Regions from separate parts of the Homo sapiens genome. Here region 1 is linked to region 2. A link means that fine-mapping ties the variant in region 2 to the expression of a gene that starts in the linked region. Tissue or cell type: whole blood. Region 2 holds a variant in brackets; the other region holds the start of a gene. All regions are shown on one strand. Distances are between the middles of the regions.

Region 1 (2,611 bases), 51 kb before region 2:
GCCTCGAATCCGGGGGACGAAGACGGGGAGCTGAGCTTTCGGAGCCCGGGCTTATCAGACGGGGACCCGGAGCCCCCTCGAACCCTCCCTAGCTTGTACCAGCTGGCGGACGTGGCCCGTAGCATCGCCCTGCAGAGGGGACCTTCCCTGAAAGGGACGGGGAACGGGGTGAAGGTGGCCAGCGCGGGCAGGGAGCACCCAGATGACGATCAAGGGTGGAGGGTCCCCGGAGGACCGAGCAGTGCGTGAACACGGGCGGAGAAAGGTCAGTCTGATGGGGGGAGCTCAGGAGACCCCATCCTAGGACGGGACAGACCAGCCCCAAATCCCCTTGCAGATTTCCAAGGGCCAACTTCCAGGGACCGGGCAGACGCCACCGGGGAGAGGGGAAGGGGTCGGTGCATCAGCGGGGGGCGCCACGGCTGGACCGGGTCCGGGATCCCAGGCCCCGAATACGCCGGGACGGGAACCACCGGGGCGGGGGAGCGAGGAACCAGGACCCAAAGCCCGAGGCGGCGGGGACGGCGGCGCTGCGTGGGGAGGAGGCGGGGTGGGGATTCGAGAGTGGAACCACCGTGCGGAGCCGGCGCATCTGGGCGTGGTGACCCGCGCGCAGGGGGCAGCTGGGGACGGCGGGGCGGCCGCGGGAGAGCCCGGCTGGGGGCGCTGGTGGCCCGGCGGCTTCTGGGGGGAGTCCGCTGGGGGCCGGGACGCGGAGCCGGAGCCCCAGCCTCGCAGGGTCAGGCCGCTGGAGAGGCCGCGGGGCGATGTCGCCGGGGATTCCCGGCCGCGCTGTGACTCGGGTTGAAGGCTGCAAAGCCGAGGCCCGGCCCGCAGCGCCCAGGCCCCTCCCGTCCCCCATCTCTCTTGTTTGTCTCCGAGTCCGGCCGGAACCGGCTTCTGCTCGCGGCGGGGCGGGCGGGGGGCTGGCTGCTGATTGGTCGACGCCTGTTTCCAGCCCCGCTCAGCCAATCAGCGGGCGGCAGTGTTTTCTTCTTGGGGTCGGAATAAAAGGGCTGGAATAAAAGAGGGCAGAAAAGGCGCCGGGCGGGCCCGACACACGCCGGAGGAGCCGGGTGAGCTGCAGCAGGGAGGGGATCGCGGCCGGGGCGAGGGCGCGGGGGCAGAAGCGGCCGCCGAAGGGGCGTAGGGAGAAAACGTGGGAACGAGGAGAGAGATGGAGCGATGAGGGGCCGCCAGGGAAGAGATGACGAACAGATGCGGGCTGGGGAATGGAGGCGCGGGGGTCCGAGGCCATGGAAACGGGCGAGTTGCCGGGGGAACGCCCGAGATGGGGGTCGCGCGGCTGGCTCGCGCCACCGGTTTGAACCGGCTCCTCGTCTCCCACGCTGGGTTCGCGTGGCCGCAGCGCCTAGCGACCTAGACGGCGGCCAATGGCGCGGCAGTTCCTGCGCCGTCCGGCCAATGAGCGCGCCGGGGCGGGCCGTTCCGTAGGTCTGGGCGCTGATCTTGTGGTTGAAGAAACCAGCTCTGGGGAAGGGTCTCGGGCGCGGGCGGGAGGGCACCTGTCAGGGTCCCTGGGAGAGGCAGCCCTCGGATCTGCCCCTGCCCACCTCACGCTGCGTTCCATGCTGGCCCCAGGCGATGTCAGTCCTGCTGCAGGCCAGGACTAGTTCCACGGCCCTGAGCATGCGTTAGCCCCTTCTTGCCTCCATGCCTCAGTTTACCTCGGAGTGAGCTGCGGGAGACGTCTCCCTGCCTGGCCGGGGCGGCTCTGTCGTAGCGGAGGGCAGCGGTACGAGCCGGCCGCGGGCTCGGGGTGTCCCAGGTCCGGGCAGGGCTGGGGTTCGCTTCCTCTGCTGCGCGCACCGGCCGCCGCGGCCGGGGAGGGGTGGCAATCCCGAGCCCTGCGGCAGCGGTCGGGGCTGCTGGGGGCGGCCGCAGGGGCTGGGCAAGGGCCGGCCGCTGACGCCGAGTTCTGTGCGCAGGTGGTGCAGAGCCGGAGCCGGAGCCGGAGCCGCGCCGCGCCGCACCATGGCGCCCACCCTGGCCACTGCCCATCGGCGCCGCTGGTGGATGGCCTGCACGGCCGTGCTGGAGAACCTCCTCTTCTCGGCAGTCCTCCTGGGCTGGGGCTCGCTGCTCATCATGCTCAAGTCAGAGGGCTTTTACTCCTACCTGTGTACCGAGCCAGGTGAGACAAGCGCCTGGGGTTGCGGGGGGCTCCTGGAGCTGGGGCTTTGGGAGGGGGCGGGATGGGGGCGAAGACCTAGCGAGCCACAGCACCGCATTGCCCAGTGCCTCTAGGGTATCAGAAGGCCCATCTGATCCTCACCCAGCCCTGCCGGGTACTTGTCATTGCCCCTGTTTTGTGGACGAAGACATCGAGGCTCAGAGCGATCTGTCTTGCGCAAGGCCGCAGAGCCTGGGCCTGCCATCCACCCAGAACCCCACCTGCTGTCCAGGGTGTTCCTTCCACCCGCTACGAACAGTGCTGGACTGCTCTCCTCTCCTCCCAGCCCTGGAACATAGCTTGGCTGGTAGTAAACATGTTGCTGTCTGCTTGTGAGAAAGAGGAACTCCAGATTAAGGGGCTGGGGTGCAGCAGGAGAGGAAGTGGCCTTGCCTCCACCCCAGGGAGGGCTCATCT
Region 2 (2,746 bases):
CACCTTGCCCAGCCTATAATTTAATTTTTAATAATGACTCGGTTAGGCTGGGCGCAGTGGCTCATGCCTGTAATCCCATCATTTTGGGAGGCTGAGGCGGGTGGATCACAACGTCATGAGTTTGAGACCAGCCGGGCCAACATGGTGAAACCCCATCTCTGCTTAAAAAATACAAAAATTAGCCGGGCATGGTGGCGTGGGCCTGTAATCCTAGCTACTCCGAAGGCTGAGGCAGGAGAATTGCTTGAATCCAGGAGGCGAAGCTTGCAGTGAGCCAAGATCACGCCACTGCACTCCAGCCTGGGCGACAAAGCAAGACTTCTTCTCAAACAAAACAAAAAACAAAACAAACAAACAAACAAAAAATGACTGTGTTAACGACTGGCTTGCAAAATTTCTGAAAATTCACAATTGGCTCCGGAGGATGGGGTTGATCCAACTCCAGGCTGACACTGCCCCTGGGGTGAGGGCCCCCAGGAATTGGAGGGCGGGGGCTGAGGGGACGGTCCCTTAAGGCCTTATGCCCACAGTCGCCTTTTCCTCCCCCAGATCCTCTCCTTCATCCTGCACACAATCGTGCGAGGATTCATCCACTCCGCTGTCGGGGGCCTGTACGCTGCCGTGTAAGTCCTGGAAGCCGCAGGTGGCCTGGTGGGCGAGGGTGTGGGAATGGCCGGGGGGAGGTTGCTGGTGGGACTGAGACTCTGAGGCAGGGTCAGCCTGTCCCAGAAGGGCTCATCTTCCTGCTTCAGGGGACAGGTACCAGGGTTTCTGCTGGGTGTTTCAGGGAAAGGCCATACCTCGTGGGAAGCAGGTCAGTGGGCAGACAGTTGGGTGCTCACAAGCCTTGGCATTCAACACGAAGTCAGTTCCCCCAGCCAGGGTCAGGCACCTGTGCAGCTCATTATGGCCTCAGGGGCCACTACAGCCGAGTCCTGGGGCTGGCCCTGGCTGCTCACTGGGAAGGATGGGTAGGTTCTGGCTGCCTGAAGCTAAATGCGGAAGTTCCAGTTGCCCTCATCACGGGCAGCAACATGGGTGACTGAGTCCAGAATACACCAGACGGGCCCATCCAGAGCCTCAGTGCGCCCAGCTCTGGCCATAGCTTTCTCCAGCCCTGGCTAAAATGAAACCTGTATCTTTTTCCAAGAAGCCCCAGAAACATAAAAGGAACCACAGTGGTTCCTTCTTCTCTGGCTCAGGCCTTGACCCAAAAACTGAAACTCAAACATCATCATCCACAGTCTCTGATGTGGGACCAGCTCATGTGTTGCTGGGATTCCTTTCCCACCTCTGGGCCAGCAGAGCCTGACATGTGCTAAGATTTAGCCCGGAACTCTCTCCCAATTCCCGCAACAGCCCCTGGGGTAATCCCAGCTCCGCTTGCCCTCCGCCTGCCCCTCCCCAGGCCTGGAGGAAGCTGTGGCTGTCCTGGCAGGGTCTGAGGGAGGGGGGCGGGATCTGTGGTGCTGAGTTTCC[G/A]CGATTACTCAATGCTTCTCTGGACGAGGGCACTGCAGAGCCAAGCCCAGCCTCCACACTCCTCTCTGGGCCTGTTTCCCAAACCGCAGGTCCCCGCTGGCACCACGCTTTCCACTCGGCTCAGCCAGACACCCACAGGCCCTGGGCACAGCTGAGTGGGGTGGGCCCTCCCCAGAGTCTGGGGCCTGGAGCTGGTCCAAAGAGAAACACTTTGCAGAACCACCCAGCAGGGCCGGGCGCGGTGGCTCACGCCTGTAATCCCAGAACTTTGGGAGGCCGAGGCAGGCAGATCACAAGGTCAGGAGTTTGAGACCAGCCTGGCCAACGTAGTGAAACCCCGTCTCTACTAAAAATACAAAAAATTAGCCAGATGTGGTGGCGGGCGCCTGTAATCCCAGCTACTAGGGAGGCTGAGGCAGGAGAATTGTTTGGACTGGGGAGGCGGAGGTTGCAGTGAGCCGAGATCGTGTCATTGCACTCCAGCCCAGGCGACAGTGCAAGACTCCATCTTAAAAAAAAAAAAAAAAAAACAGAACTGCCCAGCAGGAAGGAATCCGAGGGCTGGCACCCCACCCTTCTCTGGCACCAACGGTGCAGCCCGGGGTCACCAGACACCTGGGGCCAAGCAAAGCCCAGGAGGCAGGATGGCTGTGAGCTGTCGCTTGCCCTGCAGGTACCCCTCCACCCAGTTCGGCAGCCTCACGGGACTGCAGTCTCTGATCAGCGCGCTCTTCGCCCTTCTGCAGCAGCCGCTGTTTCTGGCCATGATGGGTCCTCTCCAGGGAGACCCTCTGTGGGTAAGAGGGGTCGGGGGATGGTGGGTCATGGGCGCCTGCCCCCTTCTGCTAACTGCGAGCTGCAAGGTCCCCCTCGGGGGCTTCAGGGCCCCGAGGACATGTGGGAGCGTTGGTTAGGATTGGTTAAGAGTCCCTTTGTGAATGGTGGCTAGGCAGGAAAAGGAACATGTCCTCTCTGGACCTGATTTGGGGAGAAATAGAACAGAGTTCCTGGGCCGGGCGCGGTGGCTCACACCTGTAATCCCAGCACTTTGAGAGGCCGAGGCGGGAGCATCACTTGAGGTCAGGAGTTCAAGACCAGCCTGGCCAACATGGTGAAACCAGGTCTCTACTAAAAATACAAAAATTAGCCAGGTGTGGTGGCAGGTGCCTGTAATCCCAGATACTCGGGAGGCTGAGACAGGAGAATCACTTGAACCCGGGAGGCGGAGATTGCAGTGAGCTGAGATTGCGCCACTGCACTCCAGCCT

The links. PIP is the estimated chance that this variant, and not a neighbour inherited with it, causes the effect.
Region 1: it holds the start of SLC43A2, and the variant in region 2 is fine-mapped to the expression of SLC43A2 in whole blood (TOPMed, PIP above 0.99).

The regions. Positions count from the first base shown.
Region 1 is chr17:1,627,259-1,629,869 of GRCh38, reverse strand. SLC43A2 (solute carrier family 43 member 2) reads left to right here and starts at 1,036. Exons shown (of 14, transcript NM_152346.3): 1 at 1,036-1,076; 2 at 1,950-2,155. The coding sequence starts at 1,996. RefSeq lists enhancers at 1,788-2,325, 2,326-2,611.
Region 2 is chr17:1,576,127-1,578,872 of GRCh38, reverse strand. It overlaps SLC43A2 (solute carrier family 43 member 2), which reads left to right. Exons shown (of 14, transcript NM_152346.3): 12 at 550-623; 13 at 2,153-2,276. Among named protein-coding and RNA genes, the nearest start is that of PITPNA, 15 kb to the right of the region's middle. RefSeq lists enhancers at 110-920, 921-1,732, 1,733-2,544, 2,545-2,746. The variant G/A (reference allele first, on the strand shown) is at 1,480.